Linked DNA regions of Homo sapiens. The protein of the gene in region 1 binds, or shares a complex with, the protein of each later gene. Each region holds a gene or a part of one and is shown on either strand. Other genes may lie near its edges. The genes, in order: PIGS, PIGU, PIGT and ULBP2. A codon is read from its position in the direction of its gene.

The links.
Region 2: the proteins of PIGS (region 1) and PIGU are in contact, whole or in part, in a cryo-EM structure (PDB 8IMX), measured with the Homo sapiens proteins. Residues at the interface, in NP_149975.1 of Homo sapiens: Ala4 (codon at 3,954), Gly5 (codon at 3,957), Ala8 (codon at 3,966), Thr9 (codon at 3,969), Glu12 (codon at 3,978), Arg15 (codon at 4,261), Arg18 (codon at 4,270), Ala19 (codon at 4,273), Phe22 (codon at 4,282), Phe23 (codon at 4,285), Val26 (codon at 4,294), Leu30 (codon at 4,306), Leu34 (codon at 4,318), Trp35 (codon at 4,321), Thr38 (codon at 4,330), Thr39 (codon at 4,333), Leu510, Leu511, Phe513, Ile521, Tyr522, Leu525, Phe526; in NP_536724.1 of Homo sapiens: Gln118, Phe282, Glu283, His284, Phe285, Leu287, Phe288, Phe289, Cys291, Val292, Phe293, Ile295, Phe299, Tyr300, Ile302, Pro303, Ile306, Lys307, Lys309, Glu310, Thr417, His418.
Region 3: the proteins of PIGS (region 1) and PIGT are in contact, whole or in part, in a cryo-EM structure (PDB 8IMY), measured with the Homo sapiens proteins. Residues at the interface, in NP_149975.1 of Homo sapiens: Thr9 (codon at 3,969), Glu12 (codon at 3,978), Val13 (codon at 4,255), Gly16 (codon at 4,264), Ala19 (codon at 4,273), Ala20 (codon at 4,276), Phe23 (codon at 4,285), Thr230, Pro238, Lys239, Tyr244, Ile247, Glu248, Val251, Gln256, Val270, Asp271, Ser272, Gln273, Ile274, Tyr276, Tyr277, Met279, Ser309, Arg310, Ser313, Ser314, Ala315, Ala316, Phe513; in NP_057021.2 of Homo sapiens: Pro26 (codon at 5,092), Arg27 (codon at 5,095), Val63 (codon at 5,203), Ser64 (codon at 5,379), His65 (codon at 5,382), Tyr66 (codon at 5,385), Arg67 (codon at 5,388), Lys71 (codon at 5,400), Gln75 (codon at 5,412), Lys79 (codon at 5,424), Tyr80 (codon at 5,427), Val133 (codon at 7,743), Gly136 (codon at 7,752), Lys191, Leu193, Pro194, Cys195, Ser196, Lys198, Ala199, Glu270, Pro271, Pro273, Leu274, Tyr526, Ile529, Cys530, Cys533, Val536, Ala537.
Region 4: the proteins of PIGS (region 1) and ULBP2 are in contact, whole or in part, in a cryo-EM structure (PDB 8IMY), measured with the Homo sapiens proteins. Residues at the interface, in NP_149975.1 of Homo sapiens: Pro514, Gln517, Phe519, Ala520, Ile523, Pro524, Leu527, Pro528, Val531, Pro532, Leu535; in NP_079493.1 of Homo sapiens: Arg223, Ala224, Thr225, Ile230, Leu234, Ile237, Leu238, Ile242.

The regions. Positions count from the first base shown.
Region 1 is NC_000017.11:28,568,513-28,575,440, reverse strand, and holds the start of PIGS (GPI-anchor transamidase component PIGS), read left to right. Parts: upstream 1-3,916; 5' UTR 3,917-3,944; coding exon 3,945-3,978; intron 3,979-4,252; coding exon 4,253-4,392; intron 4,393-4,477; coding exon 4,478-4,589; intron 4,590-6,928. Other genes in the region: ALDOC (fructose-bisphosphate aldolase C), read left to right, coding at 1-20, 107-318, 435-489, 585-745, 864-947, 1,200-1,374, 1,507-1,706, 1,820-1,915. UniProt on the Homo sapiens protein: Component of the glycosylphosphatidylinositol-anchor (GPI-anchor) transamidase (GPI-T) complex that catalyzes the formation of the linkage between a proprotein and a GPI-anchor and participates in GPI anchored protein biosynthesis.
Region 2 is NC_000020.11:34,674,077-34,680,991, reverse strand, and holds the start of PIGU (GPI-anchor transamidase component PIGU), read left to right. Parts: upstream 1-3,899; 5' UTR 3,900-3,906; coding exon 3,907-4,036; intron 4,037-6,915. UniProt on the Homo sapiens protein: Component of the glycosylphosphatidylinositol-anchor (GPI-anchor) transamidase (GPI-T) complex that catalyzes the formation of the linkage between a proprotein and a GPI-anchor and participates in GPI anchored protein biosynthesis.
Region 3 is NC_000020.11:45,411,141-45,419,157, forward strand, and holds the start of PIGT (GPI-anchor transamidase component PIGT isoform 1 precursor), read left to right. Parts: upstream 1-5,000; 5' UTR 5,001-5,016; coding exon 5,017-5,203; exon of another isoform or gene 5,204-5,376; coding exon 5,377-5,554; exon of another isoform or gene 5,555-5,677; intron 5,678-7,073; exon of another isoform or gene 7,074-7,243; intron 7,244-7,711; coding exon 7,712-7,839; intron 7,840-8,017. UniProt on the Homo sapiens protein: Component of the glycosylphosphatidylinositol-anchor (GPI-anchor) transamidase (GPI-T) complex that catalyzes the formation of the linkage between a proprotein and a GPI-anchor and participates in GPI anchored protein biosynthesis.
Region 4 is NC_000006.12:149,937,375-149,945,014, reverse strand, and holds the start of ULBP2 (UL16-binding protein 2 preproprotein), read right to left. Parts: upstream 3,002-7,640; 5' UTR 2,943-3,001; coding exon 2,858-2,942; intron 1-2,857. UniProt on the Homo sapiens protein: Binds and activates the KLRK1/NKG2D receptor, mediating natural killer cell cytotoxicity.

The DNA.
Region 1 (6,928 bases):
GGCTGCGGATGAGTCTGTAGGTAAGTGGACATCTGTAGCCAGGTAGGGTACAGGTGGCTAGGGGACCCTGGGGATGTTCTCACTGCCTCTCTTTGTTTGCCCCTAGGCAGCATGGCCAAGCGGCTGAGCCAAATTGGGGTGGAAAACACAGAGGAGAACCGCCGGCTGTACCGCCAGGTCCTGTTCAGTGCTGATGACCGTGTGAAAAAGTGCATTGGAGGCGTCATTTTCTTCCATGAGACCCTCTACCAGAAAGATGATAATGGTGTTCCCTTCGTCCGAACCATCCAGGATAAGGGCATCGTCGTGGGCATCAAGGTGCAGCCCCTGGCCCTGCTCTGAATGGAAGCTGGGTGTGAAAATAAGCTTGTGTAGGAGGGGTAGCAAGGAGAATCCTGCCTGGATTCAACCCTCTGCTTGTACTTCCTCTACAGGTTGACAAGGGTGTGGTGCCTCTAGCTGGGACTGATGGAGAAACCACCACTCAAGGTATAGGATGGGTGGGCTTGAGGACCAAAGAGGTGTTAGATAGTTGATGCTGGTAAAAGAGGGGCAGAGTAATGAGGTTGGCACTGTGCTTGCAGGGCTGGATGGGCTCTCAGAACGCTGTGCCCAATACAAGAAGGATGGTGCTGACTTTGCCAAGTGGCGCTGTGTGCTGAAAATCAGTGAGCGTACACCCTCTGCACTTGCCATTCTGGAGAACGCCAACGTGCTGGCCCGTTATGCCAGTATCTGCCAGCAGGTGTGTGTGTTGGGAGGGTGGTGAGCTAGGTGCCCTGTATGCCTGGTGGGGAGAGAGTCACAAGGCTTTCTTCATCTCCCCTACTGCCCCTCCCAAGCATCTCTGCTCTTGCCTGCAGAATGGCATTGTGCCTATTGTGGAACCTGAAATATTGCCTGATGGAGACCACGACCTCAAACGTTGTCAGTATGTTACAGAGAAGGTGAGTCCACACCTGGGCACACAAACATACTGCAGGGACAGCTCGGCAGGAGTGTCTGTTCCCCAGAACCCCCAGCTTAGATCCAGGCACACTTTCCCCTAGCACTTTTTCACTTCATCCCGGCACAGGCCTGTGATCTGAGCCTGTACTGAGCCCTCACAGTCTGTGCCCATCTACCCCTACATAGGGAGCATCGAGCAGTAACCAGTGGGGGCCCAGACCCTTAGTAAACCTCCTCTAATCCCCACCCAGGTCTTGGCTGCTGTGTACAAGGCCCTGAGTGACCATCATGTATACCTGGAGGGGACCCTGCTCAAGCCCAACATGGTGACCCCGGGCCATGCCTGTCCCATCAAGTATACCCCAGAGGAGATTGCCATGGCAACTGTCACTGCCCTGCGTCGCACTGTGCCCCCAGCTGTCCCAGGTACTACCCAGCTCCCTAACCTGCTCCTATCCCTAAGGCCCATCTTCAGGTCCTTCTTGTGGCCTTCAGGGGTTCCCTATCCTGGAAAAATTGGGAGTGACCAGTCAGTTTGTCTTCTCTCCTCCACACTAGGAGTGACCTTCCTGTCTGGGGGTCAGAGCGAAGAAGAGGCATCATTCAACCTCAATGCCATCAACCGCTGCCCCCTTCCCCGACCCTGGGCGCTTACCTTCTCCTATGGGCGTGCCCTGCAAGCCTCTGCACTCAATGCCTGGCGAGGGCAACGGGACAATGCTGGGGCTGCCACTGAGGAGTTCATCAAGCGGGCTGAGGTTGGGAGCTACAGGTGGTGGTGGGTGGGGGCAGCACCCAGAGGCTATAGCCTGGGCAGGGCTTGGCACCTGTGGGCTGGCTCAGCCTGCTTACTCCACGCTCCCTTTTGCAGGTGAATGGGCTTGCAGCCCAGGGCAAGTATGAAGGCAGTGGAGAAGATGGTGGAGCAGCAGCACAGTCACTCTACATTGCCAACCATGCCTACTGAGTATCCACTCCATACCACAGCCCTTGGCCCAGCCATCTGCACCCACTTTTGCTTGTAGTCATGGCCAGGGCCAAATAGCTATGCAGAGCAGAGATGCCTTCACCTGGCACCAACTTGTCTTCCTTTCTCTCTTCCCTTCCCCTCTCTCATTGCTGCACCTGGGACCATAGGATGGGAGGATAGGGAGCCCCTCATGACTGAGGGCAGAAGAAATTGCTAGAAGTCAGAACAGGATGGCTGGGTCTCCCCCTACCTCTTCCAGCTCCCACAATTTTCCCATGATGAGGTAGCTTCTCCCTGGGCTCTCCTTCTTGCCTGCCCTGTCTCCTGGGATCAGAGGGTAGTACAGAAGCCCTGACTCATGCCTTGAGTACATACCATACAGCAAATAAATGGTAGCAAAACATTCTACTTTGCCTGTCTGTTTTACACATCAAATTCCCACCTCCCAGTTTCTGATCTCTGCTAATTCTATCTCTGGGCCCTCTGACTCTGGAGGTGGAGAGGGTGGGATTTGAGTCTTACTGGGCTTCAAGTTATGGAGGAAGGGCACATGCAGTCACCATCCCCAGCTCAGGCTCTTGCTCTCTTGATGTCCAAGTCTGGAGTGGGGCAATGAGGAAGACTGCAAGTCTTCTAGGGACTGCCACATCAGTGGCACTGGGCTGCAGCTACAGAAGTATGGAGTGAGGCCAAACTGGCAACTCCTGAAGGCAGATTTGTGCAAGGCTCAAAGCAGGGAGGCAGCAAGACAGGCTGGGATAAGAGTGGGTGGGAGTCTCTCCCATCTCGCAGTGTTAAGCCCAGCTGGGACCTGGTACCTTCCACTAGGGTGAGCCACACCAGTAAGGGCAAGCGAGCACCTGGACTCCCGCCCAAAGAGGAAAACCAAGGCTCTGCGGGCTGCCAGGGCTGAGCAGGGCATCTAGGAGGTTGCCAAGGGCTATGGCCCATTTTCATTTGGGGTAGAAGTGGGCACAAAGGGAGCCAATTGGAGGGTCTGGGTAAGGACAGCTCTGGTGAGGCCTGATGCTGAACTTTAACCACTGGGCTGGGTTGTGAGGTAGGCTGAGAACCTGGGTCTAAGCAGATAAAAAGAAGAGATAACAAGCTGCGTGTGTTCTGTGTCAACTGGGGAGGCTACAAATGCTCCACCCTGTGTGGCCTGACTTTATAATAACAAAAATAGCTTGCACATAGCACCAACCCTGTTCTAATCACTTTATATGTACTGACACATTTCATACAACTCTATAAAGTAGGTACTATTACTATCATCCCTATTTTAATAGAGAAAACAGGCACAGATAGGCACAGAACGATCTTCTCACGATCACTCACCTAATAAGTGATGAAGCCAGGATTTGAACCGCAGTGATCAGCATCTAGAGTCTGGGCTCATGACTTTTCAAGATTTTTAAGTGAAGTATTCTGAGTTTTCCAAGTTGGAAATGAATTAAAACGTATTTTAAAATAGCGAGAGAGCCAATTGTGCTAAAACATACTAGCTTGCTACCTCCGTGTTTGAGGCTTTGAGGAGAGGGCACCCTAAGAGGAGTTCTACGATAAGGATAATAAGACCGTGACAGTTGACGTTGAGGGCTTTCCGTGTGCCAGGCTCCTTACAAGAACGGCCTCATTTATGTAAATATCTCCATTTTCAGATGAGCCTCGGAGCTGCCTGTAGTTGCCCAGCTAGTATTTAAGGACTGCAGAGGTTGCGCTCTTGATTGCGGGGCTAGAAGTGTGTTCTACAGGGAAGCGGGGAACTTCGTTCCAGCAGCGCCGAAACCCGCACGGCCCCTAGGCTGTCCCTCCGCGCCCGGGTGACTTCCTTTCAGATCCCCAGCGAAGCTCCCAGCGGAGCCCTCCCACCCCTCGCCCGCTTGCTCCCGTCTGCGGGTCTGGAGTAGCGCTCGCGATTGGCCCCGATCACCGCCGCGGTCCTGCCCCCTCGTTGCAGAGATTCCGATTGGGTGAGGCTCACGAAGCTCTGCCCCCACGGTGGCCGGAGCAGCCGGAAGCTAGCATGGCGGCCGCCGGGGCTGCGGCTACACACCTAGGTGCGGTGGGCTTCGGGTGGGGGGCCTGCAGCTAGCTGATGGCAAGGGAGGAATAGCAGGGGTGGGGATTGTGGTGTGCGAGAGGTCCCGCGGACGGGGGGCTCGGGGGTCTCTTCAGACGAGATTCCCTTCAGGCTTGGGCCGGGTCCCTTCGCACGGAGATCCCAATGAACGCGGGCCCCTGGAGGCCGGTGGTTGGGGCTTCTCCGCGTCGGGGATGGGGCCGGTACCCTAGCCCGTTTCCAGCGCCTCAGTCGGTTCCCCATGCCCTCAGAGGTGGCCCGGGGCAAGCGCGCCGCCCTCTTCTTCGCTGCGGTGGCCATCGTGCTGGGGCTACCGCTCTGGTGGAAGACCACGGAGACCTACCGGGCCTCGTTGCCTTACTCCCAGATCAGTGGCCTGAATGCCCTTCAGGTGAGACTGCTGTGCGGGAGGGTCGGGGGACAGCCCCCCCGGCAAGGTGGAGACTCAGTGACGGCCCTGATGCTCCTTCCTGTAGCTCCGCCTCATGGTGCCTGTCACTGTCGTGTTTACGCGGGAGTCAGTGCCCCTGGACGACCAGGAGAAGCTGCCCTTCACCGTTGTGCATGAAAGAGAGATTCCTCTGAAATGTGAGTTACTGGGGATCAGGGCTGCTTTTCGCCTCTGAGCTCAGTTCAGAGCTGAGTTGGGTGGGAGGAGCGGGGGTGTACCATAAACGCAGTTAAAAACTTACTGTTGAAAGACCTCTGAATGAACAGTGTGTTTGGTCAGAAAAAAACTACTTTCAAATTCACAGTCACTAAATAGCAATTTTACTCGTAAGACAGGCTACCTAATCGGAAGCAGTTGATGCCCATCAGGGTATAGGGGAAGAGGTGGGATATAGTGGAAAGAACACAGAGTTTGAAATTAAATTGGATTTGCATATAGGCCCTATTTAGTTTGTTTGTTTATTTATTTATTATATTTTGAGACGGAGCTTCGCTCTGTCGCCCAGGCTGGAGTGCAGTGGCGCCATCTTGGCTCACTGCAACCTCTGCCTCCTGGGTTCAAGCGATTCTTCTGCACCAGCCACCCGAGTAGCTGGGATTACAGGCGCGCGACACTACGCCCAGCTAATTTTTGTATTTTTAGTAGAGACGGGGTTATGCCATGTTGGCCATGCTGCTCTCGAACTCCTGACTTCAGGTGATCCGCATGCCTCAGCCTCCCAAAGTGTTGGGATTACAGGCGTGAGCCACCGCGCCCAGCCCCTATTCAGTTTAACATTAAACACTTTACTGGGGTACTTTTTTTTAGGTACCAAGAATTTAGGAATGAATAAGAAATTGATAATGGTTTCAAGATGTTCATAGGTAGGGGAGAAAGATAAAATAAATTACAGTAGAAGTATACAAGAAACAGAGATTGCACTTAGTAAAGAGTATTAACCATCTGGGAGGAAAGAAAGGCAGAGAAAGTTTTGAGAGATGTAATTCTTAAGTCGGATTTTTAAAGGATGTGTAGGAATTCAGGTTAAGTGGGAAAAGGAGGGAGAGAATTTCAGGCAAAGTTAATAGCATGAGACAGTATAAGGATAGCTGATAGTTGTTGCTCGCTGTGTGCCAGAAACTAGGTGAAGCATTTTATATGTGTTGCCTCATTTAATCCTTTCTAATGATATGATCCCCATTTTATAAATGAAGAAACTGAGCCTTAGAGAATTTAACTTGTGCAAGGTCACACAGCTAGTAAGAGATGGAACTGGGATTTAAATCCAGGCCTGACTGATTCCAGTGTTCAAGCTTTTAACCAACAAACTATACTCCTGTGTGAAAGTGTGGCGGGGTGAATCAGCATATTGGGGGACCTATGAGCAGTTTTGCCTTACTGGAATGTGTAGTGAAAGACTGGGAATGACTGGAGATTTGGGCTGAGTCTAGAGCATGAGGCATCTGTGTGCCATTTACTTTTTTAGTTCTTTAGCCTTGGTGAAAACTTTTCTTTTCTTTTTTTTTTTTTTTTTTGAGAAAGGGTCTCTCTTTGTTGCCCAGGCTGGAGTATGGTGGCACGATCAGGGCCCACTGCAGCCTTGACCTATTGGGCTCAAGCGATCCTCCCATCTCAGCCCACCTGCCTTAATAGCTGGGACTACAGCCGCACACCATCACACCCAGCTGATTTGTTTTGGTATTTTTAGTAGAGATAGGGTTTCGCCATGTTGCCCAGGCTGGTCTCGAGCTCCTGGGCTCAAGTGATCAGCCTCCCAAAGTGCTGGGATTACAAGTGTGAGCCACCGCACCCGGCTGGTTAAAACATTTTTTTAAAAAAATGATATTTCGTATGGTTCAGCCTCTGTACACACACAAACTTCTGGTTTTCTTTCTTTTTTTTTTTTTTTTTTGAGATGGAGTTTCGCTCTTGTTGCCCAGGCTGGAGCGCAATGGCACGATTTTGGCTCACTGCAACCTCTGCCTCCTGGGTTCAAACGATTCTTCTGGCTCAGCCTCTGAAGTAGCTGGGATTACAGGCGCCTGCCACCACGCCCAGCTAATTTTTTGCATTTTTAGTAGATACGGGGTTTCACCATGTTGGCTAGGCTGGTCTCAAACTCCTGACCTCCAGTGATCCACCAGCCTCGGCCTCCCAAAGTGCTGGGATTACAGGCGTGAGCCACCATGCCCAGCCAAACTTCTTGTTTTCTAAACAAAAATTGGACTATCCCTCACAAGTTAGTTTGAAATTTGATTGTTTTCAGTTTATCATGGATTTCTTCATATTTGATAACACAGTGTTCAGTAATATGGGTATACTGTAAACGTATAGTATAGGCAACACGTATAAAGGGTGACCAAGAGTATAGAATCTGGGATCAGAGAGCTGGAATTCAAGCCTTATTCTGCCACTTATTTGTGTAAATTTGAGTAAGGTTGTTAACTTCTCTAAACCTTGGTTTCCTCATCTGTTAGACGGAAATAGTAATAGCGTT
Region 2 (6,915 bases), on another chromosome or scaffold:
GGGTCACATCTGTCTACAATGGCTAATCACTGTTTTTCCCAAAGACAATCCTCACCCTAAGATAAATTTTTAAGTCATCTGTTAGAATGATGTAAATAATATAACAGCTAAGTAACCTTTACTGAGCACTGGGTATGTGCTAAGCATTTTACATTGTATAACCTTGCTCAATATTCACTATGAGGTTAGTGTTACAATTACTTCCACTTTTTATGATGTAATACACTTCACTGTAAGATGATGCAACACATATATCTCCTTTTATGTAAAAGGGGATACAAAAACCCACATCTTTAAGAAGGAAGGCTGTGCAGACTAAATAAGCTCATGTGTGTTAAGCATATGGTACACTACTTGGCACACAGCAGGGGCTCAAAGGATGAGTGCCCCTCTAATTTCTTCATGATCCCCTCCCCCAAAGGAGACCCTACCCCTTTCACTGGTCCAGAAAGCTATCAGCCCCAGGGTTTATTTTTGCATTCTTTTAGAATCCCACTCCCATTTTTTTCTTTTTCTTTTTTCTTTTTTTTTGAGACAGTCTTGCTCTGTCGCCCAGGCTGGAGTGCAGTGGTGCAATCTCGGCTCACTGCAACCGCCGATCCTCGGGTCGAAGTGACTCTCCTGTCTCAGCCTCCCAAGTAGCTGGGATTACAGGTGCCCGCCACCTTGCCCAGCTAAATTTTTTGTATTTTTAGTAGAGACGGGGTTTCACCATGTTGGCCAGGCTGGTCTCGAACTCCTGACCTCAAGTGATCTGCCTGCCTCGGCCTCCCAAAGTGCTGAGATTACAGGTGTGAGCCACTGCGCCCGGCCATTTTTTTTCTTTTTTCTTTTTTTTTTTTTTTGAGGCAAGGTCTTGCTTTGTCGTACAGGCCTGAGAGCAGCGGCGTGATCTTGGCTCGCTGCAGCTTCAACCTCCCAGGCTCAAGTGATTCTCCCACCTCAGCCTTCCCAGTAGCTGAGACTACAGGCATGCGCCACCATGCCTGGGTAATTCTTATGTTTTCTGTAGAGACAGGTTTCACCATGTTGCCCAGGCTGGTCTCAAACTCCTGGGCTCAAGCAATCCTCCCGCCATGGCCTCTCAAAGTGCTGAGATTACAGGCGTGAGCCACTGCGCCTGGCCCACTCCCCCTTTTCTTTCTCTCATTAAGGTTTGTGATTTTTTTTTTTTTTTTTTGAGACGGAGTCTTGCTCTGTCGCCCAGGCTGGAGTTATGGTTTGTGATTTTACTTATGTTATTCTTTAACTATTTTATCTCTTCAACTGCTTTCCAAGTTACATAAGGGCAAAGGCAGATGGTGCCATTTTGTCACTGCAATATTCCCCAACACCCAATAGAGGGCTTGTGGGAATATAGAGATGTTTGAAAAATGTACACCTGTTCACATCATTTCTGGTTTAAAATTCTCCAATGGCATATGGATTGCACTTTGAATAAAGCCCAAATTCTCAAGCATGGCCAATAGGTCCCTACCTGATTGCCCCCCGTCTCTCCATCCACAGCTTCTTCTATTCTCTCCACTTGAGCCATACTTGTTTTCTTTCTGATCCTCAAACATACCTTGCTCTTTCCCCACTCAGTCCGTTCCTTCTGCTTGGAGGCTCTGATTAATTTCTCATCCTTTAGGTCTCAGCTCAAATATCACCTCTTTCTAGAGTCTTCCCTGATCACCTTGTCTAGTGTTACCACCCTTATTATTACACCAGCAGTTATTCTCAGTCATACACTGTTTCGTTTTCTTTCTTCTCTCTCTTTCTTTTTTTGAGACAGAGTCTGGCTCTGTCGCCCAGGCTGGAGTGCAATGGCGCTATCTTGGCTCGCTGTAGCCTCCGCCTCCCAGGTTCAAGTGATTCTCTTGCCTCAGCCTCCTGAGTAGCTGGGACTGCAGGCACAGGCCACCATGCCTGGCTAATTTTTGTAATTTTAATAGAGACGAGGTTTCACCATGTTGGGCAGGCTGGTTTCAAACTCCTGACCTCAAGTGATCCGGCTGCTTCGGCCTTCCAAAGTGCTGGGATTACAGGCGTGAGCCACTGCGTCCAGCCTGTTTCCTTTTCTTCACAAATATGAAATTTCCTTGCACATTTAATATTATTATTGCTAATATTTAAGCACTTACTATACATTAATTAATGAAGTGTGCTGCTTAATGCTTATCAATGGGCTCTCCAAACCCCAAACCCCTGATTTGTAGTGTTTGCTGATTCCTGTGGTGTAAACACTCGCATTGGGAGGGATTTTCAATCTATCAACCTGAGGAAACTGAACACCACCATTTGGGAAGAGAAAGAGATAGTATTTGCTGTACTGATACAGCGGTGGTAAATAATCTCAAAAGCACATATAAAAAAAAGTGTAGTAAAATAATTAGAAAGTGACGTGTTGAATATGTATTCCGTTGTTTTCAATATAAGTTATTTAACTGTAGGTTTATATGTCTTAATTTTCAAAAATGCCTGTGTTTAAAAGCGACTGGCAAAATTTCTAAGCCTTCCGGCCAGGCACGATGACACAAGCCTGTAATCCCAGCACTTTGGGAGGCCGAGGCAGGCAGGTGGATCGCCTGAAGTCTGGAGTTCGAGACCAGCCTGACCAACATAGAGAAACCCTGTCTCTACTAAAATTACAAAAAATTAGCCGGGCGTGATGGCGCATGCATGTAATCCCAGCTACTCGGGAGGCTGAGGCAGGAGAATCGCTTGAACCTGGGAGTCGGAGGTTGCAGTGAGCTGAGATCGCGCCATTGCACTCCAACCCGGGCAATAAGAGCGAAACTCCGTTTCCAAAACAAAAAAAAAATTTCTAAGCCTTCCTCAACTGTCCCTAGTTAGCCTATAATCAGCACATTTTTCAGCACACAAGGGTTAAGCGACTTGTTGAACTAGCTAATAAATCAGTCTACTACTCCAAAACGCATCTGTAGAACCTAACATAGTGCCTGGAAAATAGTTGGCGTTTAACAAACAACTGCCAGAATAAATTTTTTAAAAAATACACATTTAACACTCTTTAAAAACATAAAAGGTACCAGCCTGGGCAACATGGCGAAACCCCGTCTCTACTAAAAGTACAAAAACTTAGCCGGGTGTGGTGGCGCGCACCTGTGGTCCCAGCTACTCTGGAGCCCGGGAGGTCCAGGCTGCAGTGAGCTGAGATTGCGCCACTGCACTCCAGCCTGGGCGACGGCACTGAGACCCTGTCTCAAAAACAAAAAACATAAACATTTTGGGCAGGGTGCGGTGGCTCACGCCTGTAATCCCAGCATTTTGGGAAGCCGAGGCGGGCGGATCACCTGAGGTCAGGAGTTCGAGACCAACCTGGCCAACATGGTGAAACCCCATCTCTACTAAAAATACAAAAAAAAAAAAAAAAAAAAAATAGCCGCGCGTGGTGGTGGGCGCCTGTCATCCCAGCTACCCAGGAGGCGGAAGTTGCAGTGAGCCAAGATCGCGCCACTGCACTCCAGCCGGACGACAGAGCGAGACTCCGTCTCAAAAAAAATAAAAATAAAAATAAAAATAAACATTTTGGCATTGAAAACATACACGCAAGAGTGAATTTAACATCTGTTTAAAAGTCTCTCACAATCCCAGGAAGGCGACTACTTCCGCTTCTACTTTCAGCAGCGTTTCAGCCCCGCTATAGCGGCGCGGCTTCACAAAACACCTGCGATCGTAGAAGGTTTCGCCCCACCTTCTGCATACGCAGCTTGAGGCGCCCGCTTTCCGTCGCTCCGGCCCGCCTCGCCGCAAGGCTTTCTGGGAGCCGTAGTCCCCACGTCTGGCCTCTCCGGCGCCAGCGGCAGCGCGCGCCCACCCGCGGAACTACAGAGCGTGGCGCACAGCGCGCGAGGCTCCTCCGCCTCGCCTTCCCTCCCCGCCCGCGCGCCCGCCCCAGTTATCATGGCGGCTCCCTTGGTCCTGGTGCTGGTGGTGGCTGTGACAGTGCGGGCGGCCTTGTTCCGCTCCAGTCTGGCCGAGTTCATTTCCGAGCGGGTGGAGGTGGTGTCCCCACTGAGCTCTTGGAAGAGAGGTGAGGCCACTGGCTCGAGCAGACTGTCAGGCCCCACCTGCCCTCCCGCGGCCTCTGTGAATGGGAGGCGGGGGCAGTGACCGCCAGCGCGCGGTTCCTAGAGAACTAACTGACTGTCTCGTGGGGTTCTTGGAGAGGGCGGGGCCTGAGGGCGGGGCTGGTGAGGGGAGGGGGCGTGGGGACCGGGGCGTGGGGACAGTGTCGTGAGGTTTGGGCCCTGGGGGCCGGACCACCTAGTGGTGGGGATCTGAGGGGGCGTGTCCCATTCAGTGTCCTGAGCCGAGGAGTGTGGTCTGTGGGAAGGGTTGGAATAAGAGGAGGAGGTGCTTGTGGAGCGCGGCTTGCAGAGGAGTTTGGGATTTGGGGCGGGATCGCCAGGGGTGCTCCCTGGGATAAAAGGTTATGTGTGAGGGGGTCCGGGATGAGGGGACCAATTTTGCTTAAGCGAGGAGAGTGTGCGTGTGCTTTAGACGTCTCTTCTCAGTCTGGGACTTGCAGGGCAATTTTTGTTACTGTTCCTTACTAAGTTCTTCACCGAACATTGTTTTATACTAACGCCTACAGCGAGAAAGCGAAGTTGGCCTGAAGTAGCTGCACAGGCTAGTGAGGGAGACAAATCGTTATAATAATTCATGAAAAGTATACTTTATGTGTCCACCCAGTTCCTTCCTTAGTATTCTGACCCTGAATAAACTATCCCCTACCTTTCCAGTTTTCCAGAATGTGGGATTTGAGCTGACTCTTGAAGGATGTAGGGTTTTGAAAGGGAGATTAGAGAAAAGGAGAGTTCCAGGTAGCAGAAAGTAAATAGGATGAAGAAACGTTCAAGGATGTGAAATGTCCAAAGCAGGGGAGTAATGGGGTGGAAGCTAGGTTTAGGCCAGAGTTTGATGATTAAAAAAAAACAAACAACTTTTTTTTTTTTTTTTTTACTGAAGTACAGTATACATACAATGCATATTAAGTAAGTGTAGAGTTCAATGAATTTTTAAAAACTGTATTCACTCATGTAGCCAGCACCTAGTTCAAGAAACAGTATCAGCACCCCAGAAGTCCCCTTTGTGTCCTTTAAATGCTAAAGTTTTTTTGTTTTTGTTTTTGTTTTTTGTTTAGAGACAGGGTCTTTCTATGTTGCCCAGGCTGGTCTGGAACTCCTGGACTCAAGCAGTCTCACTTGGCCTCCCAAAGTGCTGGGATTTCAGGCGTGAGCCATGGCACCTGGCCAAGGCTAACGTTTTGATGTTATCCCATAGAATGTTGGTATGGGGAACGGCATAATGAATGGGTGTTTTATGAATAGAGTTAAGGTTTCTAAAAATGGTAACATATACCTTTTCTCATTTAGTCCTCACATTTATTTCTATGTGATAGATGGTGTTATTTTCCCCCTTTTACAGATGAGGGAACTGAAATTTAGAGAAGTTAATTTGCCCAGGTTTCCTAGTTGGGGAATGGTAATAAAGATAGTAATAATTCATGTCTGAGATTGTAAGAGCTTGGATTTGTTACCTCTGCGTATTATTTTTCTGTTGAAATGAATCGAAGCCATTTGGTTCCTGTTTTCTTCTGGATAACTGAAAACCTGAGGCAGTATTAGGCCCTTCTTCCTCTACACCCTACTAAGAGCATTTCTTATCTCATAATTACCTGTTTATATCCGGTTTTTCCACATTTTCTCTCTCTCTCTTTTTTTTTTTTTTTTTTTTTGAGATGGAGTTTCACTCTCATTGCCCTAGCTGGAGTGCAATGGTGCGATCTCGGCTCACCATAACCTCCGCCCCCTGGGTTCAAGCAATTCTTCTGCCTCAGCCTCCTGGGCAGCTGGGATTACAGGCATGCACCACCATGCCTGGCTAATTTTGTATTTTTAGTAGAGACAGGGGTTCTCCATGTTGGTCAGGCTGGTCTTGAACTCCCGACCTCAGGTGATCTGCCTTCCTCGGCCTCCCAAAGTGCTGGGATTACAGGTGTGAGCCGCCATGCCTGGCCTCTTTTTTTTTTTTTTTTTCTTCAAGAGACAGGGTCTCACTCTGACACTCAGGCTGGAGTGCAGTGATAATGGGTCACTGCAGCCTTGACCTCTCGGGCTCAGGACATCCTCCCTCCTCAGCCTCCCAAGTAGTTGGTAGCTGGGACTACAGGCATGTACCACCAACCCTACTTGTTATTATTATTATTTTTTTGTATTTTTTGTAGAGATGGGGTTTCACCATGTTGCTTAGGCTGGTCTCAAACTCCTGGGCTCAAGTGATCCGCCCATCTGGGTCTCTCAAAGTGCTGGGATTACAGGCATAAGCTACCACACCTGGCCTTTTCCACTATATTATGAGCTCCTTGAAGGATTCTGTTTTATTCATTCCTGAATTCTTTTATGTCTGGCATACAGTAGGTGTGTAGTTACTGTTGAATAAATGTGGAAGAGAAGAAAGCATAGGATCTGGTTACTTACAGGAGGTTACTTACAGGATGGACAGGTGAAGGATCCAAAGATGAGACAGTGTTGTTTGGTAATTAAGAGTGCAGGGTCTGGAATCTCAGAAAAGGTTTGACTCTTTCTCTAGTTCTGCAACTTATAAGCTGTATGAATTCTTTTTTTTTTTGAGACAGAATTTTGCTCTTGTTGCCCAGGCTGGAGTGCAATGGCGCGATCTCGGCTCACTGCAACCTCCGCCTCCCAGGTTCAGGCTGTTATCTCGTCTCAGCCTCTTGGGTAGCTGGGATTACAGGTGCCCGCCACCATGCCCAGCTAATTTTTGTATTTTTAGTAGAGATAAGTTTCACCATGTTGGCTAGTCTGGTCTTAAACTCCTGACCTCAGGTGAGCCGCCCGCCTTGACCTGTGAAAGTGCTGGGATTACAGGCATGAGCCACTGCGCCAA
Region 3 (8,017 bases), on another chromosome or scaffold:
TTCAGTTTGACAGCTAGTAAAAGATCATGACTTAAGATATAAAGTTATTTCCTCATATAGAAGTTAAAAAGTACAGGTCTACATGAAAGCTCCATCGTTACTCAGCACTGGGCTCCTTTTTTGCTCTTTTGCACATGGTTTGCATTCTTAGCAATATCTCACATCTAAGGTGGCTGTCAAAGCCCCAGCCATCATGACCTTGAGACTGGCAGAAAGCAGGAGAGGAAATGGGGGATGGGCAAAGAGGGCACAGCCAGTCTATTCCCATTTAGGAAGAAATTTTTGGAAGTTCTTTTTTTTTCCCCCAAGATGAAGTCACACTCTTTCGCCCAGGCTGGAGTGCAATGGCACGATCTCGGCACACTGCAACCTCCGCCTCCCAGGTTCAAGCAATTCTCACATCTCAGCCTCCCGAGTAGCTGGGACTACAGGCGCACACCACCATGCCAGGCTAATTTTTGTATTTTTAGTAGAGACGGGATTTCACCATATTGGTCAAGCTAGTCTCGAACTCCTGACCTCAGGTGATCCACCCACCTTGGCCTCCCGAAGTGCTGGAATTACAGGCGTGAGCCACTGCACCTGGCCAACCATCCTATAGTCTTCCAGCAGAGTCTCTCAAATCAGTGTCTCCAGATAGACGTGAACTCCTTGGCATGTCAAGTGAGGGGGTACTCCAGCCATTCTGGCTCCTTACATCCTTTTTGGAACAGAGGGCTAGTCACCCAGATGGGGAGTTTCAGAAAGGACCAGGTTTGAGAAGAAGGCCATAAATTTGGTTTGGGACATGTTGAGTTTGAGATGTCTTTGAGACATCCAAGAGGATATGTTGAGTAGGCCCTTGCACCCATGCATGTGGAATTTAGATAAGAGGATTGAGCTGGAAAAAGAAAACGATCAGTTCTCAGTGTATAGGTGGTAAGTGAAGCCATGGGTGCGAATGACAGGAGAGAATGCCCAGGGAGAGAATGCTGAATGAAAGAAGAGGTTATAGGACCCAGTCTTAAGGAACATCAACTCATTTCTCACATTCAAAAAAAAAAAAAAAAAATCAGTCCACCTCCCTTCATACATTGAACATCACCCATGGGATCAGTGACCTTCAGCCAAAATCCTAAAGCTTTTTGTGCCACCCAAGGTTGAGTGACAAGGCTGCAGTCTTCCTATTGTCCCATCCTGCTCTCACCCCTGCAGGAGGCCAGTGTAAGTATCTGTTCCTAAGTGTTTTTCCTAACACTAGTGAGAAACCTGTGGGAACTCCAGGGAAGTAGGAGTGTCCACCAGCCATTCCCTGTCTCTAGGAAGCTTGTGGAGTGAATACCTTCTGTGCAAAAGCCTCTAGGTCCAAGTTGAGATCATCCACTGAGCTGGGCCAGGGCCCAGTCCTCTATTAACTTTTGGGGTTTTTCTGGGTTGCTTATGACCTTGCTGCACATAGAAGACATAATCTCTGTCCTCTTGTGGCTTCTCTCCTTCCTTCCTTTAGAGTAGCAAGGTTCTATCTACCTCCTGTCTGACTGTGGCTGAGCCATCTCTTGGGCTGCGGCCCATGATCCCAATAGCTTTGCTGTGCAGGGCTTCTCAGCTCCCAGGATCACCCCCCTTCCTTCCATGGTGAACGATGAGAAGCTAGACTGGCTTGGTTGCCGTCAACATGTCAATAAATCTCTTAGTAGCCCAGGCACATGATGCGAAGATTGTGGGGAGCCTGCCTTGAGAGAGGGATTTACAGCCCTCTAGAGAAGTAGAATTGTTTCTGAGCCTATGGGGAGCCTTCAGTTTGGCTGCTATGAGCCCCAGCCCTGCCTGGAAAAGTCTAGTGTCAGCTGAGACCCCAGGACTACTTCCTAGTTGGGACAATAACCTTTTCTCCTGCCGAACCACAGGGGCTTGGCTGGCCTTCAGAACCATCATCTCCAGCTGACTGTTTTTTGTTTCTTTGTTTTTTTAAAAAAACTTATGGGGGTTTCAAACGTACAACAAATATAGAAAGAAAAATATCCCAGGTTCTCATCATACAGCTTAAAAAATCATCAAAATAGTACCAAGATTGTATCATCTACCCACCACATATTTTTAGTGGAAAGACATTTATGATAACTCTTGAAAGAAAGAGTAGACTATAAAACACCATATTCAATATGGTCACTTTTTAAAAAAATGATAATCTTCAGATTCACCATTTGATTATAGTGTTGCATTAAAGTTAAACCGTGGTTTATGGCAGCCCAGAGCCTAGCTGTCTGGTTTTTGAGGCCACACAGTGCCTTTGGAGGTGGGAGGAAGATCTGGAGCCAACTCTAAGTCAAGGAGCCCAGCTTTCAGTCTCCAAGCTACAGCGTGGCTTCTGATATTTGCACGGACTTGTCATAGGGTGGACATCCTGACACACTTCGGAAAGGAGGCACCACAGCTCAGAAAAAGTTTCCTTAGAAGGCTTACACTGTAGCAACCCCAGGAGTGCACAGAACTTGACACTGAACAGCATGGCAGAGTAGGGAAAATACAGAACTGTGCTATGATGTCATCTTGTTTGTTCATTCATTCACACATTACTGAGCACCTACTATGTGACAGTCACCTTGCTTAGGCAACAGAAATACTAAGGTGACCATGAGCTCTTCCAGGAGCAGACACAGACACAGGTAATGGAAACAATGTGATGAGAGATGTAGCAGAAGTACATGAAGCCTGTAGACCACTAGAGGAGGAGAAGGTAAGTCTTCACTAGAGGTGGCTGGGTCCTGAATGATGGAGATGGGCAATTTCAAAAGGAAAACAGAGAAGTACAAAATAGTCATAATGATGGCAGCTACCTTTAAAAAAGTATTATTTTGAGGTTTGATAGTGTAGACTATAGTCCTAGCTCCATCACTCATTGTAATCTTTATTATCTTAGTTTATGTACTTCTTAATAATAACACTCAAGCAACCCTATCACTTAGGCACTATTATCTACATTTACATATTAGTGCCTAGGTGACAGGGTTGAGTGTTACTATTAAGCACTTGCTACATTCCATATCCTACATGTACATAATTTCTCATCTTAACAACAACCTTGAAAGTAGGTTTCTTCATTATACAAATGAAGAAAAGTGACACTTGGGTTGATCATGCTCATATGGATTAAAGGCTGGCATAGGGATTTGGACTCCTGTCTTTCTGACATCTAAGCCCATGGCCTTCCTAATATTTCGTGTCTAATGGGGCAGGAACACTGAATGCAGGCAGAATGAAGGCATAATGAGATAAAGACATCTTTCTGACATTTCCTTTCTGGAAATGTCTGGTTGGTTGGCGCATATCTTGGCAGACCTGCCTGACACCAAATTGGCTCTTTCTAGAAGTGTGGTCATGAGTGTCACCAAGAGACTGTTCATGAAATCCTTCATGAATGTGTTTCCCATAGGGCAGGTGGAAAAACTAAAGCATGACTTTAACTTTGGAACTCCGAAAAAGTCAATAAAAAGACAAGCCAGTAAACAAAGGGGTGAGGGTGCAGAAGACTTTAACAGACCTTTCACAAAAAAATAAAAATTAAATTAAAAAATAAATGGCAAATAAGCACATGAACAGATGCTTAACATTTTTAGTTACCAGGGAAATGCAAATTAAAACCACAATGAGCAAACACTACATACATACCCAAGTGGTCAAAACTAAAAAGTACAAAAAATTAGAAACTTCAAATGCTGACCAGGATGTGGTACAATGGAGACTCATAGTTTATGGAAACATAAAATGATACATTTTGGAGAAAGGTCTGACAGTTTCTTATAAAATTAAACATACACCTGCTCTCTGACCCAGCAATTCCACTCTTAAATACCTGGCCAAAGGATATGAGAAATATACGTCTACAAAGGAGCTTGCACAGACAGCAGCCTTGTTAATAATAACCAAAAACTTTAAAAGTGCCCATCAAGAGTTGAATGGATAAATTAATAATACTACGCAGTAATAAAAAGAATTGTGGATACATGCAAGAACATGGATGATTCTCAAAAACATTCTTCCCATGAGAAAAAAAAAAGCCTTACACAGTATACATACTATATGATTTCATTTATATTTAGTTCTGGAACAGATTAATCTATTGTGGGAAAAAATCAGGGTACTAACTGCCTCTGGAAGGTGATAGAGGAGCAGGGATTGACTAGGAAAGGGTATTGCTAATTTTCTGGGGTTTTAGGAATGTTCTGTATCATGATAGGAGTTCGGGTTACATAGGTGTGTGCATTTGTCAAAACTCAGTGAATGTGTACTTTGGATTTGTGCATTTCACTGTATGTGAATTTTACATCAAAATGCAATCGAATACTGAACTCTAGTTAATTATATGCATGCTTAACTACTTAAAGGAAAGTGTACTAATGTCTGCAATTTACTTTGAAGTGCACCAAAACACAAGATGGAATGATGGATGTATAGACAAATATGTGGTAAAGTACAAGTATAGTATAATGTAAATAGTAGAATCTAGGTGGTGGAAAATAGGTTTATTGTAACAGGTGCTCATTCTTTCAATTTTGTTTGAACATTTTCGTAATAAAAGAACCACTTATTTGGGGGTTTTGCAGCAAATGGAGACACTAGAAGCTAAGAGGGGCAGGAGGTTCCTCTTACTTTGGGAAATGCAAATTAAAACCACAATGGTTTTCCCAAAAGTAATTGATCTTTTTCAGTCAATGTTTCCTCAACTATCAAATGGGTAAAATGGCAGTGAAGGAGCTTCATATTATTAAGCATTTCCTGGTGGGTGGAATACGCCATGAACTAGGTGCGGCCTCAAGCTGGTTACTCGCCCTGCCTACTCCCTCTCGTGTCCTCCCAGTACCCCCTTAGACCCACCAGCTCTGAGGGAATCTTCGCGACCTGCGCAGGCGGTCGCTCTGATAACCGCATCCCGGTTTCCGGGACGACAGCGGAAGTCACTTCTCACACGCCTTTCTTATTGGATACCGGCTTTTCATGGGGCCGAGCGCCGCTGGGTAGGCGGAAGTAGCCGCAGGCATGGCGGCGGCTATGCCGCTTGCTCTGCTCGTCCTGTTGCTCCTGGGGCCCGGCGGCTGGTGCCTTGCAGAACCCCCACGCGACAGCCTGCGGGAGGAACTTGTCATCACCCCGCTGCCTTCCGGGGACGTAGCCGCCACATTCCAGTTCCGCACGCGCTGGGATTCGGAGCTTCAGCGGGAAGGAGGTGAGGGCGCGAGATCTGACCAGGGAAAGATTTCCGTAGTGCCTGCTGGCTGGCCGGCCGTGGGATGAAGGCAAACTTTGGGGGCGGGGCCTAATTCCTGGGTAGAGTTCGGGATCCTGGGTGTGGACCCCGACGAGGTGGGGATCGTCACTCACCTGCTCCCGTTTCCCCAGTGTCCCATTACAGGCTCTTTCCCAAAGCCCTGGGGCAGCTGATCTCCAAGTATTCTCTACGGGAGCTGCACCTGTCATTCACACAAGGCTTTTGGAGGACCCGATACTGGGGGCCACCCTTCCTGCAGGCCCCATCAGGTGCAGAGCTGTGGGTCTGGTTCCAAGACACTGTCACTGAGTGAGTGCACACCTTGGGCCCTGTTGCAGGCCATGGAGGGAATGTGGCTGGGAGAGTGTTGTCATCCTGCCACTGCTCTTGGGGACAGCACTTCCAGTAGGCAGCGATTCCATGGGGGTAGAGCTGGCATTGGAAGTAAGAAATGTTACCACAGATGAATAAACTTCCCAATCCTAAAACTTTCAGACCTGAGGTAGCACATGCATATCCCTGGAGAGGCAAATAGCAAACAATTAATGCTTATTTGGAGGTAAGGCAGTAGAAAACTGGCAACTGGATAACCTTTTAAAAGGCATTCATTAATATTTTTTAAATGATAATAAATACCACGAAAGCCAACCATAACATATCTGTGGGTTACAACTGGCCAACAGGATGCTACATCACAGTGTTAGAGGAACTGCTTTTGTTTGGGAGGGGGCAGGTCTAGTTACTGTGCCTACTACAAACCGCTATTTCCCAGTGGCTGCTGTGGCTATCCTGTTTAGAATAGAACCTTTCTGTGCAGTGGTTGCAAACAGGTCTACATGGGCCACACAGGTAAGGAATGAATAAAGGTATTTTTAAAATTGACAAACACAGGAATGAGAAATATATCTCATTTTCCTCTTAATCCCACTATAAGAAATCAATAGTGCAAGTATGATATAACAAGTTTTAGGGCAATAAAAAGGAGCAGCAGGAATTGTGGCAGGCTAGAGAGTTTGTGTGACATTCTAACGAGGACAGCTCTGCCACTCAGCTTCTATGGATTGTTGCCATGTGGGAATAGAGGCCTAATGTGGTCAGAGTCAAATGTTTCTAAAAATTTTTTGTAGAAACAAGGTCTCACTATATTGCCCAGGCTGGTCTCGAACTCCTGGGTTCAAGCGATCCTCCTGCCTCAGCCTCCCAAAGTGTTGGGATTACAGGCAAGAGCCACCACACCTGGCCTCATTTTTCAAGAGATACCAGAAATCTGGAATTTAATGTGAAAATTGGCAAATTCAAATATCAGCAAGTAATTTAAAAATTTTTTGAGTGCTGTGCGGGTCAATGTTGTGCATACCAAATGAAGCATGTTTATGGTTTGAGTAGAGCTTTCCGGCTTCAAGTTTGCCATTTTTATTTGAGGCTTAAGGATTGGAGCAGTTGAAAAGCTCTGAACATAGAATTATCAAAAGCTCCTGGACAACACTAAGGAATAAGGAATAAGCAGTAACTCCCCAGCTTGCCAAGACTTTCTCTCTTGCCTCAACTCTGGCTCCCCTACCCTTTCCTGTCTACTCTGCTGTCACTGTCTTCCCTCAGCCCGTAATTGCCTGAAATGTGGAGCAAATGCTTAGAATTCTTTCTAGTGCTTATTAAGTTTTATGCTTTCTCTATTACTGAGAGCAAATCTCTTTTGATATTTCTCCAAGAAAAGAACATTAATTTAATTTGATGTTTTTATGAAATCCTAGAACAGTTGTTTTTCCCATGTTCAGTGAGCTTTTTTGGATATAAGACTTCTCACCATGATAGTAGAATCAGGACTTACCTTTATTCCCAGAGTATACACAGGGTAGTATGCATTGTTTTGCCCAGCCCAGCACATTCAAGGAAGATCAGTGAGCTCATTTCAGCTCTGATACATGAGGCGCTTTCCATGGTGTCAGGGGAAGTACATAGATGACCCAGACTGGTCCTTGTCCTCAAGTTGCTTACAGCCTAGTTAGGGAGAAAAGGTGGTCAGGACACGATGCTGCTGCCACCTAGCCATCTCCCAGGAGGGACCTAGTAAGATGCTTGGATGGTCAGAACCGTGACTGCACAGAGGAGACTGTGCTTAAGGAGGGCAGGAAAGGCTTCGTGGAGGGGAGGTAAGCACTGGAGCCGGATCATGAAGGTAGGCAGAAAGAAGTTAGCAAAGGCTTGCAAGGAAGGAAGAATCACCTGAGCAGAGACCCATGGGGATGCAGAGATGTCCAGAGGAGAGTGAGGAAGAAGGGGCTGAGTAGGATGAGACCCAGCAAGTGGGCTGGCTGGGGGCAGCAATGTTCCAGCTCCATCAACTGGCCCGTCTAATAGTTAAGAATACAGCCTCCTCCTATCATAGGTTTAGCAGCCAGCTGTGGACTTTGAAAGAGGGAGCAGAGGTAGCCCCAGGACAGTGAGTGGATTTGTGTCTCTATCCAGTGTGGATAAATCTTGGAAGGAGCTCAGTAATGTCCTCTCAGGGATCTTCTGCGCCTCTCTCAACTTCATCGACTCCACCAACACAGTCACTCCCACTGCCTCCTTCAAACCCCTGGGTCTGGCCAATGGTGAGATAACCCCTACAGCCCTTTCCTTCTTCCTCTTACCTCCTGCCCAAACCTTTGCCTCCTTTTCCCTCAGTTTCCTGCTTCCTCAGCCTGGGCTAGATCCTAAGTCCCCTGTGTGTGCAGGCCCCCAATACTGTGCCATCTCTGCATGCCTTTTCCCAAGGAGAGAAGGGAGTCC
Region 4 (7,640 bases), on another chromosome or scaffold:
GGCCTCTCTAGCAAGAGAGGAGGAAGGGCCTGGATGGCAGAGGATCTTCAGCAGTAGCCCACGTGGACTGCGGGAGGTGGGAGAGGGTGTGGGTCCACCCCTGTGGATGCTGGTGCTGGTTGAACAGAGTGAGGATGGAACCCCGTTGGATAAAGAAGAGTTAATTATCATGGCCACAGGATTTAACATGTTGGCAAAGCCCCTGGTGATGGCATGCATCTGCTATGAGGAGGCCTTCCTGAAACCTTGGACAAAGAGATGGTCCACACAGCAAGAAATGGAAAATCTGAAAGTCTAAGGCAGGTAGTGGAGGGAGAGATCACAGGCTCAGAGAAGTGCCCATGCCAGAGGGGTCTAAGTGTGAAAATCCAGAACAATGTCCATCCACTGTGCTTATGGGAAACCTGGAGGACTCCTGTTTACCCAGCATATAAAGAAGGCCCCATGAGAAGGCACCAGAATGGAATGAAGCTTAGGGATGCCTATTGCTGAAGGCCAGGGTTGGGGGTAGGAGATGCTGTTCCTGAAATCTGCTCCCAGAGTAATGGGATGAACAATTCTGAAATTCCAAATTCCAGGTGGAGGCTGTCAACTGTCAGGAGCAAGGAGGGTGCAATGATGGAAATGATTAGAGAAGTCACAATGCCAGCTGGGGACCTCAGTTATACAAAGTTATGCCCATGGCTCATAGAACAAAGGGGTCCAAGGTCCAAAAGAGATGCAAACCCACCCCAGATACTGCTGGATTTAAATAATTACAAGAAACAGAGATAAACCAAATCAGGAGGCTGAAAGTAGCCAGTCCATCAAGAACGAGGCTGCTTTGCCTAATTTGCAGAATGAAGCCACTTCTCAGACCCTGAACCCATGACTAGAAGAAGACACCAGTTTCTAGTGAGGAAGGACCCTTTAACCCTGCAGCCAGGACAGTGAGTCCTTGTGGCCTTCTCCAAAGATATTTATGGCCAGTAGAGTTTGCTGTGAAGGGCAATTTTGTAAACATGTAAAGGTGTGCAGGGAATATATTCTCCATTGTAACTACTCAACTCTGCTGTTGAAGTTCAAAAGCAGCCATAGACAATCCATGCATGATGAGCGAGGCTGGACCTACCTTAAGTGCCCAATGACCCAAGACCCCCTAAGACCCTAGAGGTACATGTGGTCACAATGTCTAATTGGAGAATCACAACAGAGATTCCATGTGAATATTCAGAGACAAGGCAATGCCACTCACAGCAAGGAAATCGCAACATTAAGCAGTGGCTCCTGTAGAGTACTGCACCTTGGCAGAGATGGGGCCTTTTGCCATGCATATAAAGAAGGCCCATGACAAGGCACCAGAATGGAATGAAGCTTAGGGATGCCTATTGCTGAAGGCCTCAGAGCTGCCCATTACTGGTGGGCTCCTCACCCTCTAGGTCATTAGGAAGTTAGGCCCAGCAGTGAGAAGACGCAGGTGGTTCTTCTGGGATGGGCAGGAGCAGGGCCACCGGGAACCAAGAAGCTGCACAAGCAGTTGGACCCGATCCCCAGGACACCACGTGGCTGCACCCCCTCACCCTCAGCTCACACCTGAGGCTTCAGGGAGGGTACCTGATGGTCCCCGTGGATGCCACTCAGCACAAAGGAGGGGAGAATAAGCCCCCAACTATGGGACCCCCACTCCCATCACATCCACACCACCCAGAAGCCACAGACAAGGTAGGACCACCTTCTACTCTCCAACTGACATCAGAGACATCACTTGGAGATGACACCATAGGGGATGGGGCACTATTCACTGGGACATTGTAATCCCCTGATCTGGGATCAGCAACCTAGGACAGGGTCCAAATCTGGTCCCCCCTATTTGAAGGTTGCCATTGCCTGCTGTTGCTCTACAAAGGGACAGGACTGGACACTGAGACGGAGAACCCACGGCCTGCAAAGATCACAGGGCATCCTTCCTCCCTTTCTAGAAAGAGTTTGCTGACCCCTGTCTACACAGTGACTATTCTCTATGACGCTGACACCCCCGTAGGAAGAACAGGCGGTCTGGGCCCCAAGGGCAGAAGTGGGTGCCTCTACTCACCAGAGTTCCCAGGGTCATCCTGGAGGAAATGGTGCTTCCCATCCCCCCTGCACAGGTTCTGAGGGGAGCTTGGGGTGTGTTTGCTGGGGTGTGTCCTCAGGCAAGAGGCAGAAGGTGCGACGTGGTGTAGGAGGTGGTGAGGTCCCCTTCATGGATGGGGAGACCTCTGGGGTGACCAGCTGGGCTGAGGTGGGCAGTAAGAGGACGTGACCTGGGTGGTGGCAGTGGATGGTGAGGGGAGGGGTGGCGGTTGTCTGCTGAGCCCCTGGGTGCAGGTGAGTGTCTACAGGAAAGTGCAGGGAAAAATTCAAGGGCACGCAGCCCTGGGGGCGCTGGAGGGTTTGTGTGGTGGAGAGCGGGTGAGAGCAGAGCAGGCCTGTGGCTGGTGGGGGTGTCTGTGATCGCGTCCCTGTGGAATCCCGCTTCACCCCTGTCCTGTCCCCAGCTCCGGTTCCGGGGGCTCTGGTTTTTCCTTCCCGAGGGCGGGTGGGACTGCCAGGCTGCACCAGGGATCCCCGCCCCACCTCGCTCTCTGCAGCCCTCCGGCCCCTCCACCCTCCTGCCAGCCTCCTTTCCACCCCGCTCCTTTTCGCCTCTTCCCGGGCAAGAAGCAGCCTCGGGGACTGCACCCAGCAGGAAGGAGCCGCCGACCGGAACTGAACGGGGGCGCAGTTAGGGGAGATCTCCCCCGTCCTTCTAGAAGCCTCCCCTCCTCTGAAACCCGCGGCAGTTCACAGCCCTCCAGGCTTGGTCCCCGCCCGGCTTAGGCTCCATCCACGAACTCACCGGCTCGCCCAGCCCGGGACCAGCCGGACAGCAGGAGCAGAAGCGGGAGGCACAGAAGGATCTTGGTAGCGGCGGCTGCTGCCATTAAGGACCCAGAGCGCTAGGGATGAGAGACTTGATGGAAGGAGAGCCTGGAAGATGAATCACCTCAAGGTTTTAAAGCCTCCCTATGTACGGGCGCGCCCCCCGTTTCCCGCTGTCATAGCGTCAAGCGGGTCATAGCGTCACGCGGCTAGAAATATGATTGGCTGCCCTGACGGTGTCCCTCCCCTTCCCGGGCGTCCCTCCCCTTTGTCCCAACCCCCTTCGGGTTGGTGTCTGGGTGTCCGCCCGGCTCCTGCCAAGACACGGTTCCTTCCACGACAGACTCATTTAATCATCACAACATTTTTTTATTGAAGGTGAAGAAACTTGCAGAGGAATATTCAGCGGCGGCGGCGTCTCCCTGTCCCCGCCTGGGTCCGCGACGCTCTCCCTCCCTCCGCCTGCGCCGCGAGGTCCCTGGCTTATCATGCTCTGGGCGCAGCCACGGGCCTGATCGCGTCCCCTCCACTACTGCGCCAGTTCCCAGTGGACGTGATTACAGTCCGGGCTAGGTTTTATTATTTATTTATTTATTTATTTATTTATTTAGAGACGGAGTTTCGCTCTTGTTGCCCAGGCTGGAGTGCAGTGGCGTGATCTCGGCTCACCGCAATCGCCGCTTCCCGGGTTCAAGGGATTCTCTGGCCTCAGCTTCCGGAGTAGCTGGGATTACAGACGCCCTCCACCACGCCCGGCGAATTGTTTGTATTTTTGGTAGAGATGGGGTTTCATCTTGTTGGCCAGGCTGGTCTCAAACTCATGACCTTAGGTGATCCACCCGTCTCGGCCTCCCAAAGTGCTGGGATTACAGGCGTTAGCCACCGCGCCTGGCCCGGGCTAGGTTTTATTACAGGAGCAGCAGGCAGGGTTCCAGAGGTTTAAAACAACATATTGTGCACTAAACAACTGGTCAAGATGGTAAATTTTATCTTCTATGTTTTTACCAAAATTAAACAGCTTTAAAAATATATATTAAAAAATTATGTCTTGTTCCTGCTCTGCCCAATGCAGATTGGCCAAAAGAGTCTACTTATTAAAATCGAGGACAACATGGAGGACCCCGTTCCTAAAATCTCAACCTGTGACACACTTGCTGATTTAGAAAGCTCCTCAGAGAGATGGGCCCTGAGCTCCCAGTTCAGCAGCCTCCCTCGCCCAGGTCCACGGATGGCACAGGGGGCTCAGCAGAGCAGGTTCAAGTGAAAGTTCCTGGTGGTTCCCCACTGTTAGTGCATTCTGCTGGCCTCTTCGCCCTGGGCAAAGGGCCAGCCACCCTTCAAAGCTAGGCACAAATGCCCGGTCCCATGCGTGTCCCTCATGTTCCCACAATACAGAACACCCTCCTGCTCGCTGAGACCTGGGTCCACAGTGAGTGCATCCAGATCTCCCTGTGTGACAACTGCTCACACAATTTAATTTGTGTGTGTAAGCATGTGTGACAGACTCTTACTCTGTCACCAGTCTGGAGTGCAGTGGCACGATCATAATTCACTGAATCCTCAACCTCCTGGGCTCAAGGCTTACTCCCTACTCAATATTGGAGAGTGTGGGGCAAGATAGTCTGAGCCACTAGCTGAGCCGTCCTCTTGTTACTGTTTCCTATGCCCTGGCAGATGCCTCAGTAGTATTCACTCCTGGATTTACCAAGCCCTGTGTTAGACTGGTCCAGGGGCTGAGTGGGTCTTGGCTGTGAGTGCAACTGGGGTGAGTTATTCTGCCAGGATTGGGAACTGTGTTACTCAGGAAACTTTTCTCATCACCCACCCCAATCCTGTCCCAGATGGGAGGAGCAGTGAGTGCTGTGTCCAGGCTCCCTGTCTTCCCAGTGCTCCCAGCATCACATGAGCTCCTCCCCAGATGGTGTGGGGTCTGGGCTCTCCATGTTCACCATGCTCCCACCATTGGCTCCCCATTTCACTGCTCTCCCAGGATCATCCCAGCCCCTCCAGGGTCACTGCCTGACCAGGTGGGGGTTGGGTGAAGAGGCAGAGGTCAGGGCAAGACCCCTGGTCCATTCTGACTTTAGGTTCCTCTCTGAAACGCGACTGCATTCCACATCCTGTTCCTCTGGCAACCTCAGTTGGGATCACCTGTAGGGCAGTGTAGAATCCTGGTGGGTGATGACCAATTCCTGCCACCGTGGCTTTTCAAGTATATCGATTTTTCCTAAAATGGATAAAGAGACTGGCAATAAGTTATGGAAATACTGTTTTCCTTACTAACAGTAGATACGTGTTTATGTATCAATTCTGGTTTTTAAAACAAATATAAACCCATAGGCACTCTGCTGAACACAGATTCTATCTCAAAATAACACACTTTGAAGATCTTGCAATACCTGCACATACAGATTTTTTCCTTTTTATCTCTGCACATTACATAGAATGACTGCATCACAACAAAAGTAACCAGTGTCTGTGTCTGAAGATCCAGACGGTCTCCAGTGACTTTTAGAGAAGCGAAATGCTGCAGAAACTGTGCTTGCATGAATCACAATTTCATTGTGTAGAATAGATTTCCAGACACAGAATTGCTGTGCGAAGTAATGCACCTTTAAAGCATCTCATGTCATAGGATGGCAATGCTGGCGACACTCTTGTCTGTGATTGTGATGACCCAGCTTGGGCAGAGGATGGTGAAACATCCACCGTAGAGGGAGGGGAAACTGGTACAGGCTTCCTGAAGGACAGGGTGACAGGGTTCATCAAGGGTCAAAAATATCCGCGTCTGAATTGAGAATATGTATTTATATTCGTTTGAAACGGCATAAAGACTCCCTGGAAAGATGAGAAGAATCAAATAAACTTTCCTCCCTGGCGTGTGGCCAATGAGAGTGGACGCAGGCAGGGGCGGGGGAGCCTTTCACACATGACTTTTCAGGGTTTTGATTCTGAAACAGGTGAAAATGTGGAGGTGAAGTAGTAAGTAAGAGTGGGGCCGAGAGTCCCAGGGACGGTCACACGGTGGGCCCGCCTGATCTGTTGGGGGCCACTAGGGTCCGGGGAGGGGAACCCGGGCAGCTGCGTGCGGGGCTGCTGCAGTGACGAGGCACCGGTTCTAGATATTTACCCAACGGTGTTGTCACAAAGGGGATATTATAGGTGATTTCTGATTTCAACCGCAGATGACTTTCGGAGACAGTTCGCATATGCGGTTTCAGTTTTCACCCTGCTGCGTCCTCTCCGGGTTCTGCGCGCTCCTCCCAGGACGCCCGCTTCGCCCGAGCTCCGGACCCGGGTCCTGCCCGGTTGAGACCGCCGAGTGGGTGCCACGCTGCCCGCCGATGCTCCCGGGCCTCCGGGTCCACAGCCTCCGGACAAAACGGCCTTTCGAAGACCTGGGAGGACTCGCCGGTCGCGACAAGGAACCGTGGCAGGAGACAGGAAATGCGGGGCCTGGTGGGGTGAAGAGCACGAGGTTCCTCCTTCATCCTCGCGGCGACTTTGCCACCGGCTCAGTGTGGAGACGTCACAGTCCCGCTCGGATCCCTGGGGATCCGACAGTGTGGCCCCCACGAGGACCCCCATCCTCCTTGCCCTGGGGCTGCTGCGGGAGGGCGCCCATGGCGCACTAGGTCCTGAGTGCCCAGGATCCAACAGGGGCTTCCCGTTGTCGCCTCCCCGACCCCGCCGCTCGCGGTCCAGGGCTCCTGGTTTCTCCACTGGGCTGGGGGCCCCGAGCATGGACGTCTTGAGGCAGAGAAAACCTTGGGATGGTTGGAAATGAAGGACGGGAGGGAGAACCAGAGAAAGGGAGAGGAAGGAAGCAGGTAGGGCCAGAGAACAAAGAGAAACCTCCGCCAGGAAAATGGGAAGAGGATGACACAGGAACAGCCCTACACTCCACCAACTCTCAGTCTCCTGCTCTCTGCCTTGTAAGGAACGCAGGCCCCACCCCCTCCAGCCTCACAGTGTTTGGGGTCACCCATTCCAGCGGGGTGAGGCGTCCCCTTGTGGGTGCTGTTGGCATTTCCCTGAGGTCTGTGGACACTGAGCACCTTTTCCTGGGCTCACTGCCATTTGCATTCTTCTTCCGATGCCAGTGGGCAACCGGTGGTCCCCAAACTCTGATGAGACCTCGACCCCAGCCGGTGTCGGGCTCTTGACACCGCCTGGGGAAATGAATTCTAGGACCAGTAGGAAAATAGAGAAAGGACGGAGATTTTTTTGTAAAAGGGAAAGTACACACTCATGTAAAGGGAATGCAGGGGAACTCAAGAGAGAGGCAGGTGCAAGGGGGTTTAGGGCTGCCACCTTTCTGGGTTTCTTTAACAAGGGGTGGAATATTCATGAAAATTCCTAAAAGAAGGTGGAGACTGCTCAGAACTGTGGTGCCACCCATTTTTACACCAAATATTGGTGTTCTCTGAATTGCCAAGACGCTGGTGTGTGTGCGTTTAGTATGTCAATTAGTGTATAATAGGGTCCTAGGTGAAACCGAGGCCAAACCCAGGGCCATGTTGGGTCCACTCATTCTTAGCCAGCCTGGTCCATACCCTGTCTTTTAGGGTCTTATCAGCCCAGAGCCTCTGCAGATATTTCAACAGATTCCTTTTGCTAGTCACCTGAAACTGCTGCCTAAAGTTTTTTTCTTCTTTTGTGACCACACTGTATTATACCTGTCTCACTTTGGAGAAACATCTTTTTGAATTCTTTGCATATATTTAAATTGGGTTATTTTGCTTTATAATGTTGGGTTG